3 separate regions of the Homo sapiens genome follow, and all the other regions are linked to region 2. The links come from fine-mapping of genetic effects on gene expression. A gene starts in region 2. Each other region holds a variant in brackets. All regions are shown on one strand. Distances are between the middles of the regions.

Region 1 (5,227 bases), 83 kb after region 2:
CTGACAAGTCTGTGATTTGAATCTGTATCATTTCAGAGTCCATTCTTCTTCCTACTCTATGTTACTTCCAGCTTTTAAGTTACTGAAAATGACTTATTTCTTCCCATGAAGACTCTGTGAGGCTGTTCCTATCGGAAGACAGCTGCATCACTTTCTCCAGTGAAAGTCACAGAATGTAGTGCGGCATCACAGTAGTCATGCTTGGGCTAAGGAAGGCAGGGTACACCGTCTTAAACTCCAAATTGTGGCTCCTTGATGTTTATTTAAGCTGGAAATGACACAGTCATTCCCCTGTCCATGGGGGGGGAATTGGTTCCAGGACATCCCCCATTTCTGGATATAAAAATCTGCAGACGTTCGAGTTCCTGATAAGAAATGGCATAGGATTTGCATATAACCTATGCACATCCTCCTGTGTATTTTAAAGAATCTCTAGATTACTTATAACACCTAATACAATGTAAATGCTGCGTAAATAGTTATTATATGTATTGGATTTTTTTATTTGTATCATTTTTGTTTTTTTCTATTTTTTCCTCCGAATATTTTTGATCTGAGGTTGGTTGAACCCACAGATGTGGAACCCATGGATACCGAGGGCTGACTGTACTGGCAAAGCTTTATGCTCTCTTTCTCTTTGATACTCTTTATCCATGGACTAAGACTCCCTCTTGTGGTAGAAGCATGTCTCCTCCAGGCACAGACTGAAGGCCTGCTTCTTTCTCAAGAGGTGAAACTCACCTGGTTTAGTGAGATGTGATGCACTCTGAGATTGGCTCCCAAGTGACTTGTCATCTAAGGTTTTATCTTGTGAAGTGGGTTGAAGTTCAGTAGGTTTGGAACAAACAGAGAATTCTGTCCTGGAAAATTAATCGATTTTTGCCATATAAAATCTAAGAGAAGAGAAAAGGTTGTTATTCGCCTGAATTTTAGTCAACTGGCAATCATACAGGCTCTCTGATTCCACTGTTCACCTCAGTGAAATATGAATTCTTTACTACTTCCTTTCAATGTGAAATTGACCAGTGAATTTCAGAGTCCTTATTTCCTATTGCTGTGACATATCAGGAGAACAGTTTATTTTCAATGGTGATAGCATTTTTGTCATCTTGCCAGTCTGCACAATGTTTTAGAGACAGGATCTTTACTATGTCTCTGCATGGCTGTCCTCAGTTGACAGAAGGCAGCTGTGGTAGACAGAATGATGGCCCCCTCAAAGCTACCCATGTCCTGGGAACTTGTCAATATGTTACCTTTGCAAATGGGATTAAGTTAAAGGCCTTTCTTTGGGGAAGGTATCCTGGATTATCCAGGTGACCCCAATGTCATCACATGGATCCTTAGAAGGGGAAGGTAGGAGGGGAAGAGTGAGAAAAAGTGATGTGACAACAGAAGCAGAGAGAAGAAGAGAGTGGCAGATGCTACCTGCTGGCTTTGAAGATGGGACCACAAGTCAGGGAATGTAGAGGTCGTCCCTAGAAGCTAGAAAAGGCAAGGAAACAGATTTTCCCCTAGAACTCCTAGAAGGAATGCAGTCCTTCTCACCCATTTTAGACTTCTGAAATCCACAACTGTAAGAGGATACATTTATGTTGTTTTAAGCCATTAAGTTTGTGCTTTGTTACAGCAGCAATAGGAAAGATTATACAAGACATTGTAACCAAGCAAATACCAAAACTTTATAATTGCCTATGGAACCTGTGTCTAGATCACCCTTTGTATCAGTCAAATTAGACTAGGTTATGCTTCAGTAACAAATAGTTTCTTCTATCTTAGCAAAAGCAAAGCTTTATTTCTTGCTCAGGCTATGTGTCCATCTCAAGTTGGTGGGGGGCTCTGTGCCATGTCCTTACCCAGGGACCCAGGTTGACAGAGCCTCCACCATGTGGAACATAGCTGGTCACCGTGGGAGTGTCAAGGAAACATGAGAAATAGCACATTGGTCTTAAAGGCTTCTTCCCAGAGGTGACACTCTTTTTTTTTTTTTGAGATGGCATCTTCCTCTGTTGCCCAGGCTGGAGTGCAGTGGTGCAATCTCAGCTCACTGCAGCCTCCATCTCTTGGGTTCAAGCTATTCTCCTACCTCAGCTTCCCAAATAGCTGGGATTACAGGCACCCGCCACCACGTCCGGC[C/T]AATTGTTTTGTTTTGTTTTTGAGACGGAGTCTCGCTCTGTTGCCCAGGCTGGAGTGCAATGGCGCGATCTTGGCTCACTTCAACCTCCACCTCCTGGGTTCAAGCAATTCTCCTGCCTCAGCCTCCTGAATAGCTGGGATTACAGGCAAGCGCCACCACACCTGGCTAATTTTTGTATTTTTAGTAGAGACGGGGTTTCACCATGTTGGCCAGGCTGGTCTCCAAAGCCTGACCTCGTGATCCGCCCGCCTTGGCCTCCCAAAGTGCTGAGATTACAGGTGTGAGCCACCGCTCCCGGCATTTTTTTGTATTTTTAGTAGAGACGGGGCTTTGCCATGTTGGCCAGGCTGGTCTTGAACTCCTGACCTCAGGTGATCCACCCACCTCGGCCTCCCAAAGTGCTGGGGTTACAGGTGTGAGCCACCATACTCCCGGCTTACGTGTGACTTTTGCTTAGTTATTGACTGTGGCAAGTTACAGGCCAATGCCTGATTGAAAAAGGGGCAGGGAAGGCCCATCCTACCATTCCATAAAAAGGAGAAAGATTATTGGTGAAGAACACTAATTACTACCAAACTCTTCTTCCTTAATAAGGATCTTCCTGGACACCATTGTAGCAGTTTATTGTAGGCTAAAGATTCAGGATTATATATCTCAGTCTGACATTGGGACTTATCAGTGTCAGTAGGCCATATATAATATGTATATATTTTTTTAAATCTTAACTAAATGCATGAAATACTTGCCAAATAAGGAGATGATCAATTTAAGGTGACTTGTAGAGGGCATACCTTCTTATATGATGACAGCCAAACTGTTATCTTATATGATTGGTGCCAAACTGTTAATATTACACTACAATAAACACCCTGTTTATACATGTGTACTTAAGAAGGTTAATTTTGTCAGCTGAAAGAGTAATTTGATCACAGGGTCATTTATGCAGAGCCTTATGGTTTTCATTGGCGATTACAGTATGATCTTTTCATTTGCTTTCCTTATGCCTTTGGTAAACAGATATTAAGGGGCTTCTATTAATTTGATTGATTTCAGGATTCAGAGTTTTCCCAGATTCTAATTATTTCTCAAATAGCCCTGATTCAGTAACATGATGACTATCTGTAATGTGGATTACAGAGATGATACTATGTTTTAACCTCTTTTAAAAGCTTGCTAAGAGTTCGTCAAAGTGAATAATTGTGATCATCATATAGACTACTTTTCACTTCCAGAGCATGTTTTATGTCCATCTGAGATATATAGAAATGGGAGAGAGGTGTAGGGCAAGTGAAATAGTTACCATTTTACAGATGACTGACTGCAGAACAAGCGTTAGCACCAGCGTCTTCCACATTTGACCAGAGTGACCACAGTTGCACTACAAAAGAAAAGAGAGAAAAGAAAAAATATCCTATGACTTGGCTAAGGCCATGTAAGTTTACTTTGATCACCTACACCAGAGTCCTTTTGCACACAGTTGAAACATACACCTCACCTTTTCTTCTCTGAAAACCGTGTGTTCTTCCTTCCCCTGCTGTGATCTCAGTGGATCTAGCTCAAATGTGTTTAAGAAAGATTTGTGGAGCTAGTTCATGGTTTATTATTTCAAATTAGAAAGGAACAGGGAACATCATACATAATCTACACATTTTTATAAGGAGAAATCTTTTTTTTTCCTGGTGAGGAAAAATACAGATCATATAATTTTGCTTTGTTGCTCAAAAACGACGTGGAAACTCCTCAGTGGTTCAGACTGGAAGAACTATGGGAAATGTAGCTGTTAATTTGGCAGGAATTTGCCATCATCCTGGGTCACCTCAGTATCCATGAAGACAAACCAACTGCCATGCCAGGCTCCCAGATGCTTGACTGCCTGGCCCACAGAGCCCTCGCTTCCCCTGCACTTCAGCCACCCACTGGCATCACCACGATGGGCTGTGTTAGCAAACATTGTGCAGCGCCTGTGCAGTCTCGAGCCCCGACATCGAACTTCCTGAGTCCAGATTGGCGACCCTCCCGTTGTCTCACTCTTCACTGGCACTGCTCTTGTTTTTGGTTCTCAAGACAGGATGTTGTCTCTTTTACTGTGTTCCTGTCAGCCCTCTTCTGTCTTCACTTCTTTTCTCACCTCCTTACTCTCCACAGTGCATGGGGCATCCCTCCTCACTCCCTTCAGTCATACTCATTAGACCAAACCCAACTGGAATCAGTGCAGCCATCCACCTTCTCCCCCCACCTTGACCCACTGTGTGCTGGTGGAGACAATCACACCTCCAGAGTTTGCTGCTTGGAGCTCACAAGGCTACTGCTATTTCAGACACAGCTGATGATCTCACCTCCTGCATTAGAGTGAGGATGAGCCCTCTGAGAGGAACTCCTCAACTTCTAGGCTCCCACCTGAGATTCCATTCTGTCGCACTAGTGTGTTAAATCCAGTTCTTACTGGCTTGCAAGAGTGGATTGTTAAATGTTCAGGAATTTTATGAGCCAGTTGTTAAACACCGTTATTACTAAAAATTAAATGAAGACTGGGTGCAGTGGCTCATGCCTCTAATTCCAACACTTTGGAAAGCTGAGGTGGGAGGATTGCTTGAGGCCAGAAGTTCTAGACCAGCCTGGGCAACATAGCGAGACCTCATCTCTACTAAAAATAAAAAGTAGCCAGGTGTAGTGGCACACACCTGTAGTCCCAGCTACTCAGGAGGCTGAGGCAAAAGGATTGCTTGATCCCAAGAGTTTGAGGCTGCAGTGAGCCATGATCACACACGCCCCTGCACTCCACCCTGGGTGACAGAGTGAGATTCTATCTCAAAAGCAAGACAAAACACAAATGATATAAACTTGCAGTTACATATATTATATTAAAAATAGTGGTAATACTTAAAACATTCTAGTTCTTAAATTTTACTCTTGTCTAGCTTTCAGGGTTATTTATGTCTATCACAGGGCAACCAACTGTCCCTGTTTGGTCAGGACTGAGGGATGTCCTCAGTGCTAAAAAGTGATGGAGAAAATGTTATTAGTGCAGATTAAACTTAAAAGTGTGTGGCCAGGCACGGTGGCTCACACCTGTAATCCCAGCACTTTGGGAGG
Region 2 (5,202 bases):
GGCCAGGCTGGTCTCAAACTCCTGACCTGGAGTGAGCCACTATATCCGGCCTTTATAAACTTTTTTGATTCTTGTCATAACACTTAGCCTAAAATGCAAATGTACAGCTGTAGAAAAATACTTTATTTCTTTATATCCTTATTCTAGAAGCTTTTTTTCTATTAATTTTTGTTTGTTTGTTTTGTTTTACTATTTACTTCTAAAACTTTTTTGTTAAAAACCATGGCACAAACACACACATTATGCTAGGCATACAAAAGGTCAGGATCATCAGTCTCACTGTCTTCCACCCCCACTTCTCATCCCACCATTGTATCTGCTGTCTGTGGCTGACCAAAACATCATCATGTAGCACATGACTAGTGTGGCAAGTGCTCTGTTAGATGTAAGGCCATGATGCTAAAGCATCACAAGAGGGCATCTAACCCAGATTGGGGATGTCATGGAAGGCCGACATCCTGAGTTGAATCCTGCAAATGTAAAAACCAATAGGCAAAGAAGAGGAACAAAAAGGATTCCAGGACAAACTGAGGTCACATCTATGATCCTTGACTTTATTGTGTCTGTTTAAAGTATCTACAGTAACCTGTATCAACTTAGTCAGTGTATTAATACTAAATTTAGCTCCTTCAAAGCAGTTGGAACTATGTGCTACATAAATTTCAGCTTCACACAAGGAAGGGAAGGAGTGAAATTAGTGAACAGGCAGTTACAGCAAAAGAAAAAACATAAAAATTGAATAGCTGGCTCTGGTGAAATGAGCAAGGACTTTAGAGTCAAACTGGCCTGGATTTGAATCCTGATCCTCATTGCTTGTAGCTGTATGATCTGGACAAATGACAGTAACTGTTTCTAACCTTGATTTTCTCATCTGTAAGATGCCAATTGTAACTCCTAAGGATACTGAGGATTTTTTAAAATGCGTGTACAGTTCCTGACCAGTGGTTTGTGCCTAATAACTTATTACAAATTATTACCCAGTAAAAACCTTGAGACAAGAGTGAAAACGTAAAGCTAATTAATCCATTACTTGTTAGCAAGCAAACTACGTGCTTGAGAAAATTACTCAACTTTCATGTTTTACTTCCAGACAGTAGTTTGATTAAAAGAAAAAAAAAAATCACAGCCCAGGCATGTGGCTCACACCCTGGCACTTGGAGGCCGAGGTGGGAGCATAGCTTGAGCCTAGCAGTTTGAAACTAGCCTGGGCAACATAGATCCTATCTCTACAAAAAAAAAAAAAAAAAAAAAAAAAAAAATTGGCCCGGTGTGGTGGTGCATGCCTGTGGTCCCAGCTACTCAGGAGGCTGAGGCGAGAGGATCGCTTGAGCCAGGGAGGCTGAGGCTGCTGTGAGCCATGATCATGCCACTGCACTCCAGCCTGGACAACAGAGCAAGACCCTGTCTCAAAAAAAAAAAAAATCAGTAAAAAATATGCCGAAATAGCTTCAGAGTAATTATGAATTGCCTTCCAAAAACCACTGTTTTGCACTTGCCTGCAAGAATAGGAAAAACAAAAGGACTGTAAGGTGGCAGGATGGCAGAACCAAACAAGAGTAGTACACCTTGGAGTTTTTTCGAAATATGGGTTGGGTTTTTGGGCTCTTGGTTGATTTAAAATAAAATTTAAATGCCTTCAGCGTCTGTGATAGGTGCCAACATGAAGCTACCGAGTTCCAGAGAAAGAGGGGAGAGCTGATCACTCATCAGTGCTGCGAGACTATCAAAGGGCCCTTCAGGACCTATCTGTTCTTTGTGTGTAAAGAGTAACAATAAAAGAACACCAGTGTACCCACCGTATAGTTTAAAAATCAGGACTCAGCCTACTCTTTCCACTAACCGCGATCATGGTTTTCAAACGGAGGACCAACGGCGCTTTGCCACTGGGCCGCCAGCTGGGCCCTGCAGAGGGCCTACCAGACAATGAATCAGCTCCCTTGGAGAGGCGCCCGCGACCGCCCCACCAGCCCGAGAGCTAGAATTGAATCTGGGGGACCCCTGCGGCGCCGGGTCACGTGCCGTGGGCGCGCCACGCCTCCCCGAGGGCCGGGGGAGTCACGTGGGCGCGAGGCCCCGCCCCATCGCCCGGTCCGCGGCGAGGTGGGGCCTGGTGTTTGACCCGGAAGTGGCTGTGTTCAGCTGACAGCTGCTGATAAGGTGGCGGCGGCGAAGGCAGCGGCAGGTCGGGAGCAAGATGGCGCTGCGGCCAGGAGCTGGTTCTGGTGGCGGCGGGGCCGCGGGAGCTGGCGCGGGGTCCGCCGGGGGAGGCGGGTAGGTGTGAAGAGCCGGGCGGGAGCCCGCTGGCCTCCGCGGGGGCGGCGAGGGGCGCTTGGCAGTTATGGCAGTTTTCTCCAGCCCTGATCCTTTTCCTTGGAACTGGGCTGCGGGAGGAGGGTCATCCCCCAGGGACCCAGGCCGAAAGGGGCGTGTGGAGCCCAGGTGCTGGACGCTGGTGTTCCGGGATCAGTTGGGGGCGCCGGCCGCCTGGAATCGAGCGGGGAGCGAGCGCGCGCCCAGTGTGGGAGGGGAGAGAAGATGAGGGTCCTCTTGGGGTGGGGGGGGGCGGGGCAAATCAGGAACCGCGACTCCGCTCCTAGTCCTAGCTGCCTCTGAAGCGACCAGGGTCTTCCCTTTCCTTGGGCTTTCTAGACTTAACCGGATATGTTGGAGGGAGGGCTTTAAAAATCTGTTCACAAAGCTGGAGGACTGTTTCCAAGGGGGGTGTGTGTGTGGACTATTTGTCTCTTCCCCTTTTAGAGTGTCCTGTCCTCTTTATTTCCTTAACCCGCGACAAACAGCAGGAACATCTAAAGACCTCTGAATTAGTAATGGTCTTGAGATAGAGTTCTTGTCTTGTACACTAACTCTTAAGACTTGTCTGTCTTCTTTTTAAAAAGGCATTTAAAAACAAAGAAAGTGCACTGTTAAACAGCAGTTGCGCATTTATTAGAACAAAGCTTCCAGACTCAGCCCTTAAACAAATCTGCCCTCTGCCACATTTCAGCCAAGAACTGCCGTGGTTCTTATACCCAGAATGGTAAGGGAGATGTACGTTTTACAAGCTGACAGATTCGTTATCATTTAAGGAAATATTTTATTCTAGGAAGTTTTCACTCCACTTCTATAATGACCTAGTCTGATTTTGTTTTACTAACCAACACACAACAGCACACACATTTGGAGGTAAAAGTAGCTTTGCATCTTCAGTATCCTAAATTGTCTTTGGAAAACGAAGTGTTAGGTTTTTTTTTTATATGCAGTGTTTCAATTTCGGAGTCGTGAACACTACAAAAGTGTAAGGACCTTAAAGTTATCACCTCTTGCAGGTGCTTGTCAGGAAACGAGCAGTGGCTGTTCAATAAACCACCTGTGTGTAACCCCATTTTTCATTTCCTCTGCACATCTTTAACTTTAGATTTTTAAACTTTTTGCTTTCTCTTTTGTTCTCTCCGTTGTTTCATTAGAGGGTTTTTTAAAAAATAAATACTTCGTGTAAGCCAGTTTCTGGCTGGAGAAGAAACATATGTAATAATTCCCTTCTATTTGTTTTTTCTTTTTCTTTTGTCTTGTTTTTTTTTTTTTTTTTTTTTTTTTGAGAGGAAGTCTTGCTCTGTTGCCCAGGCCAGAGTGCGGCGGCGTGATCTCGACCCGCTGCAACCTCTGCCTCCTGGGTCCAAGCGATTCTCTTGCCTCAGCCTCGGAGCAGCTGGGATTACAGGTGCGCGCCACCATGCCCGGCTAATTTTGTTGATTGATCGATTGAGACAGAGTCTCGTTCTGTCACCCAGGCTAGAGTGCAGTGGCACGATGTCGGCTCACTGCAACCTCGACCTCCCGGGTTCAAGCGATTCTTCTGCCTCAGCCTCCCAAGTAGCTGGGATTACAGGCGTGCGCCACCACGCCCAGCTAATTTCTGTATTTTTAGTAGAGACGGGGTTTCACCATGTTAGCCAGGCTGGTCTCAAACTCCTGGCCTCAAGTGATCCGCCCACCTTGGCCTCCCAAAGTTCTAGAATTACAGGCTTGAGTCACCACGCCCGGCATCCTCTATTTATTTCCTATATGTGATTACAGTTTCTAAAATGTCCCTGGATGGTATTAATTTGATCAAGTATATGATTAATCATGGCACCAAGTTCTGGGAAAATGTAAACTTAGAAGAATTGATATCTAGGCCCAAATTTTTATTTACTTAAAAAATGTTTTTGGATGGGGAGGACCTCAGGTTCAGAAATTCAAGTGCATTATTCCCTTTAGTTTGCAGTATTTGAGTATCATTGGTCCATGGACACAAATTTTTAAAATAAATATGGGTTGAATTTTGATAGAAATTAGAATGATTTTAAAATTTCCCCCCTTTGTAAATGTAGCAACATCTGCATTCTAAAACTGTAAACGATATACAGGAGAGAAAGAAGTGGTTAAAATGATTCTTACCTTGAAAAATGTATGGTACATATGTTACATATATTGGCAACTTTCTGAGGCTGAGAAGCTGTATCCTCAATAGAAAAAGGAATATTATTTTTTTTAGAGAGTAATGGTGTAAAGGCTGAAGTTATTTTATTTCCTTTTTAATTTTCTTTTTGCCACCCACCCTCCCTGAAATTATTTTATAAGGAAACTTAACATTATGGCAACCTAAGTATATTTGAAGAAAAAAAACAGGCAACTTCTCTACACCTTTAATGGAGAAAATCCATGAACTATAACTGACTGTATTGTTTAGATACTTCTCTATATTCTAAGAGGCTAAGCAAAACACAATAACGTTTTCCAAATTTAATATTACCCTACTTTTGATTGGTGTCCTGGATGAGCTACTTTAGAATAAATGGTAGAGTTGTATAAAGGGCAAAATTTGCCCAAGAGATGAGAAGTATAAATTTTTTTTTTCTTTAATCAAGGCAGAAAAAAAAAAGAGTTGAAAGATCTGGATTAGTCTGTAGTCATTGAATGCTTACATGGGTAAGGTACTGTTCTTGATGCTGTAATGAATTAAAAAGACATCAAAACATGGTCCCCATCCTTGGAGAATGTACAAAATAACTGTGGTACAAAGTAAAGTGGAACAAAGAGGTCACGTTCTTCTGGGATGTTATCATCTGTGAACTTGTCTATTTTTTCCTGATCTTTTACAAGCTTTTAGAGGGCTTCCTCATCTTTTCTTCTTTCACTGCTTCTAGCACATTTTTGCACATA
Region 3 (5,227 bases), 69 kb after region 2:
CCGAACGAATGTTCGGATGACTTTGGAGAGTTTCAAAGTGAAAAGCCCAAAATCAGCAAATTTGACTTCTTAGTAGCCACTTCACAAAGCAAAATGAAATCCAGTGAAGAAATGATCAAAAGTGAGCTGGCAACCTTTGACCTTTCTGTTCAAGGTGAGTAGCTTCCAAGGTAGATTTTACTATTGTGGTTTTTTTCCACTGAGATGTTAGATGTTCTTAAGAATAAAATGTTGCTCTCTGGTTTCGCAGGAAATAGATTGTTCTAATCTTTGAAATCAGGGTCAATTACAGATAGCTATAATAAAGATTTCCCTGAGACGGGAGTCAAAATCAGCATCCCTCAGATAACTGCTTTATGGGCTAAAAACAAGCACAGCATGCAGGTATTGCTCATTAGCTCGTTTGGTTAGAGGTGTGCTGTGTTAAAAGAGCCAGATAAATGGATTCGAGCCACTTGTAGGCACATTAGCTCCGCTCATGTTCCCTGAGCACAGATAATGTCTTTTAATCCAAAGGTTGCAAAGTGGGGGCCGGGGATCTGCATCTAGCCTGCATATCACATTGACCCACACAAAAGATTTTTAAGTACGAAGTAATTGCCAGTATTTAAAAGACATGAGATTTCCCAATCTGGATTTCCAACTTTTCTTGAGAAGTCATAATATCTGGCACTAGTAGGTCTACAGTCCCATATGTTGGCAGCTGGAGCCGAAGAGCACCACTCCCTGTAGGTGGGTCATTCTCTCTCTCCTACCATAATCCCCACCGCTTCCTGTCTCAGCGGACCTACTTAAGTTGTTCACTTTACTTGCCTGGTCTCTGAAGGCATTTGAGTTTGCCTCTTCTGCTTTAATCTCATCCTGACAGGAGGGGTCGTTGATTTCAACTGGATTGAGAGACTGTGAAGGAACTCGGTTACAAATCCATAACAAATGACTGGAAAAGCCACACAACTCTTACATACTGATATTTAGAAAGGTGCTTTTGTTCTCCAGACTCCAGTGATTCTGCACTGGGCATTATGGAAGACTTGTGATAGATCAGAGAAGAGTCATGTTGAAAACGAAACGCAGGGAAACCGTGCAAGAGAGAACAGTAGAAAAGATTTAACATGTAGCTTCCCAGAAAGAATGAATGAGGAATGTGTTTGTGAATGCCTCATGACATAAGCATCTGAAGAAGAGGGTCGTGGGCTGGGCGCGGTGGCTCACACCTGTAATCTCAACGCTTTGGGAGGGGAGGCAGGCAGATAACTTGAGATCAGGAGTTCGAGACCAGCCTGGCCAACACAATGAAACCGTGTATCTACTAAAAATACAAAAATTAGCCAGGCATGATGGTGTGCACCTGTAGTCCCAGCTACTCAGGAGGCTGAGGCAGGAGAATTGCTTGAACCCAGGAGGCGGAGGTTGCACTGAGCCGAGATCACACCACCGTACTCCAGTCTGAGCGACAGAGCAAGAATCTGTCTCAAAAAAAAAAAAAAAAAAAAAAGAAGAGGGTTGTGGTAGCGAGGAAGAGCCTCTGCCTGAACTAAGGTGAGTAGCCAAAACCTTTGACTGTATTATCCCCTTCTCCCAGGATCACACAAGAGGAGTTTGAGCCTTGGTGATAAAGAAATAAGCCGTTCTTCTCCTTCTCCAGCTTTGGAGCAGCCTTTCAGAGACCGTTCCAATACTCTGAATGAGAAGCCCGCCCTGCCCGTCATCCGAGACAAGTACAAAGACCTGACGGGAGAGGTGGAGGTGAGAGGAGAGCTTTCTACAAGGGGTGGGTAACAGACCAGCAAGCACACAGGGCCCCAAGAAAGAATGCTGTCAGCTTTCACATGGGGAAAATGAGGGGCAGAAAGACACAAAGCACCAGACATAAACTATGTAATTAAAGTGAGGCAAGGGTAACATTAGCCCTGGGTGAAAACATTTCCCAGGTGTGGCACCCACTGAAACTAATCAGTGACCCTAAAACCAAAACTATTCATGGGACTTCACAAGGATGGCAGTGTTTGTATAATTCTTCTTGAGCACTTAGACTTTATTGTCTTCATGAAACCTCAAAATAGAGGAGACAGGGAAAATATTCTGAATTTTTTATTTCTGTCTGCTGCATCTTAGTGCCACGCTATGTTCCTCCTATGGTCAACACACTTAATTTCCCACCTTTCCCTACTCCTTGTTACATGTGCACATGGGCCACGTCCTCACACACAGCCACACAGCGTTATAACTGGGGCGTGGAAAGCCAGTGGCTTAATAGCAGTTTCTGTACCAGATAGCTACATGCTGAGTGCCTCCGAAGAAAGGCTTACACTGTTACTGATGGAACAAATGAGGCAACACTCACAGGGGGAAGCTGCTGGAAAGCATGTCCCTTAGACTCACAGGTCCTGTGCTCAGAAGTTACATTTATTAGTAATTTAACATAGTTATTAGTGAGTTCAAAAAGATAAACTGCGGCTGGGCATGGTGGCTCATGCCTGTAATCTCAGCACTTTGGAAGGCCAAGTCGGGCAGATCACTCGAGCTCAGGAGTTCAAGACAAGCCTGAGCAACATGGTGAAACCCCACCTCTACCAAAAATACAAAAATTAGCCTCATGTGGTGGTGCGTGCCTGTAGTCCCAGCTGCTCTGGAGGCTGAGGTGGGAGGATTGCTTGCGTCCAGTGCAGTGAGCAGAAATCATGCCACTGCACTTCAGCCTGGGCAACAGAGCAAGACCCTATCTCAAAACAAAAACAAAAACAAAAAAAACATAAACTGCTTGAACTAGAGTGATCGTAATAAAAAGGAAAGTCCTCCAAGCACTTTGAATTGACAGAGTCATCAATAGAAGATTCCAGGTTTGTGTGTTTAACCCAGTTCTTTTTAACAAATTCACAGGAAAATGAGAGATATGCATATGAATGGCAGAGATGCCTGGGGAGTGCCCTGAATGTGAGTATGTCACTTACGCGTTCACACATATGTGAGTGCTCTTTTGTGCCTTTTTGCCTTCTTGGTTCATTTGAATTGACAGAGGCAAACTTCAGGAGAGCCTTACTTGGATGTCCCTGGGCAAAGAGTAACTCTGTGGAAGTCATGCATCT[A/T]AGGTGAGGCTTCTTTCACACTTACAATAGCAGACCGGCTCATGTGTCAGTCATCCCCTCATCTGTCATTGTGTTTAAGAAATAACAAAGTGATTTCATTAACTCTGACTAAATCAAAATAATATTTAAGCTAAAGAACCTGTCTTGGCTGGGTGCGGTGGCTCAACACCTATAATCCCAGCACTTTGGGAGGCCAAGGCGGGCGGATCACGAGGTCAGGAGTTTGAGACCAGCCTGACCAACATGGTGAAACCCTGTCTCTACTAAAAATGCAAAAATTAGCCAGGCGTGGTGGCACGTGCCTGTAATCTCAGCTACTCAGGAAACTGAGGCAGGAGAATCACTTGAACCCGGGAGTCAGGGGTTCAGTGAGCCGAGATCTTGCCACTGCACTCCAACCTGTGCTACAGAGCGAGACTCCGTCTCAAAACAAAGCAAAACAAAACAAAAGGAAAAAAACATATTTTCTCTTCCAGAGAAATGGAGGATTGTTTCTTCAAGGATAAAATGAGATTTTTTGACACCTCCTGGCTTTTCGGTTGGGTTTTCTACTAATAGTAAATTGATTTGCAATGACTTTTCTCAGTTATGTAAGGTGATGTGATTTCATTTCTTGTAGGTCATTAAGAAGGCAAATGATACCTTAAATGGAATCAGTAGTAGTTCTGTTTGCACAGAAGTAATTCAGTCAGCTCAAGGCATGGAATATTTATTAGGTATGTTCTTTCATATTTTACTATTGAAAATGATGGCCCTTTGCATTATTTTCAGTTTTCCCTTTAATTATTTTAAGCTAGATCTCTCAAGTTACATATGACTTCAGTAAGAAGCATCTGTATTTGTGGGTAAGACACTCAAGCTACAGGCAGTAAACTATTGGACTTAATTAAAAAGTCTCTATGGCTAAGTTTCCTCATCCTTGTTATATACGTAATAGCAAAAATGTAAAATTATATCTGTGTTACTGGTTTATCAAAGAATCTGAACTACCGATGCACTAAAGTAAAATCATCTTGTCTCCCATCAATTCCTTACCATACTCTATATTCTTTCTCTCGACCGCTTAATGACACCACAGAGTCCTTAACCTCCTGGCCATCTGCAGCAATTTGATGTGTCAGTCCAACGGGAAAGTGTAGTCTCTGTCCACTTCGGTGTTCCTCCCTTCCCCAAGCTCAGGCTTGGCCCGTGGCCAGAGCCACACATGCTGGACCCTAATCTTTTTCAAATCTTTACTCAAATGTCAGCTTCTGAGTGAAATCTTTCCTAGCATCCATCTCTCCAAAGAGTATCGTCTCTCCCTACCCCGGTACTTCCCATCCCATTCTCTGCTGGATTTTCTCCTTAGCCCTATTACCTTTAATTTCTTACATATGTTACTTATTATTCTTTTCTTTTCTTTTCTTTTTTAAGACAGGTTCACACTCTGTCACCCAGGTTGGAGTGTAGTGATGTAGTCATGACTCACTGCAGCGTCCACCTCCCAGGCGCAAGCAATCATCCCACCTCAGCCTCCCAAGTAGCTGGAACCACAGGTGTGCACCACCATGCACCCAGCTAATTTTTGTAGTTTTTGTAGAGACAGGTTTCCGCCATGTTGCCCAGGCTGGTCTCGAACTCCTGAGCTCAAGCGACCCACCCACCTTGGCCTCCCGAAGTGCTGGGATCACAGGCGTGAGCCACTGCACCTAGCTACTTGTTGTTTTTACTCTCTGTCTCCCTTCACTAGAATGAACCTCCAAGAAGGCAAGGATTTTGGTCTGTTTTGTTCACTGGTGTGTCCCCAACACCTAATCTAGTGTCTTGCACGTAGTTGGCACTCAAAAATATTTGCTGGATGAGTGGAGAGTGAAGGGATGTAGTCTCTGCCTTACTCCTGCCACCTCACTTGGGGTCTTCTTTTCCTGCTCAAACAGGCACAGTTCTGCATAAGCAGATGTCCACCAGGAAATGGGGCACCTGTCTTTTCTCCTAGTATCCTTGTATCTATGGAAGATTCTCTTAGAAGCCCCCTCACTTGGCTTAGGGTGGGCAGTAATTTCTGCCCCTCTCTTGGGAAAGGAAGAAGAAAAGCCGTAGTGCTGACACAGGGCTGCTGAGGCCCCGCTCTGAAGATCCCCTGGAATTCCTCCAGTGTTCAC

The links. PIP is the estimated chance that this variant, and not a neighbour inherited with it, causes the effect.
Region 1: its variant is fine-mapped to the expression of SYNRG in whole blood (TOPMed, PIP above 0.99).
Region 3: its variant is fine-mapped to the expression of SYNRG in unexposed skin (GTEx, PIP above 0.99). The same link has a PIP of 0.9 or more in aorta, esophagus muscle, lung, monocytes, pancreas and sigmoid colon.

The regions. Positions count from the first base shown.
Region 1 is chr17:37,522,893-37,528,119 of GRCh38, reverse strand. The region is part of intron 19 of SYNRG (synergin gamma); the gene reads left to right. Among named protein-coding and RNA genes, the nearest start is that of DUSP14, 36 kb to the right of the region's middle. The variant C/T (reference allele first, on the strand shown) is at 2,134.
Region 2 is chr17:37,606,348-37,611,549 of GRCh38, reverse strand. SYNRG (synergin gamma) reads left to right here and starts at 2,132. Exons shown (of 22, transcript NM_007247.6): 1 at 2,132-2,271. The coding sequence starts at 2,195. It overlaps DDX52 (DExD-box helicase 52), which reads left to right. Exons shown (of 15, transcript NM_007010.5): 15 at 1-1,811.
Region 3 is chr17:37,536,899-37,542,125 of GRCh38, reverse strand. SYNRG (synergin gamma) reads left to right here. Exons shown (of 22, transcript NM_007247.6): 15 at 1-154; 16 at 1,583-1,746; 17 at 2,881-2,934; 18 at 3,706-3,802. Among named protein-coding and RNA genes, the nearest start is that of DUSP14, 50 kb to the right of the region's middle. RefSeq lists an enhancer at 1-443. The variant A/T (reference allele first, on the strand shown) is at 3,087.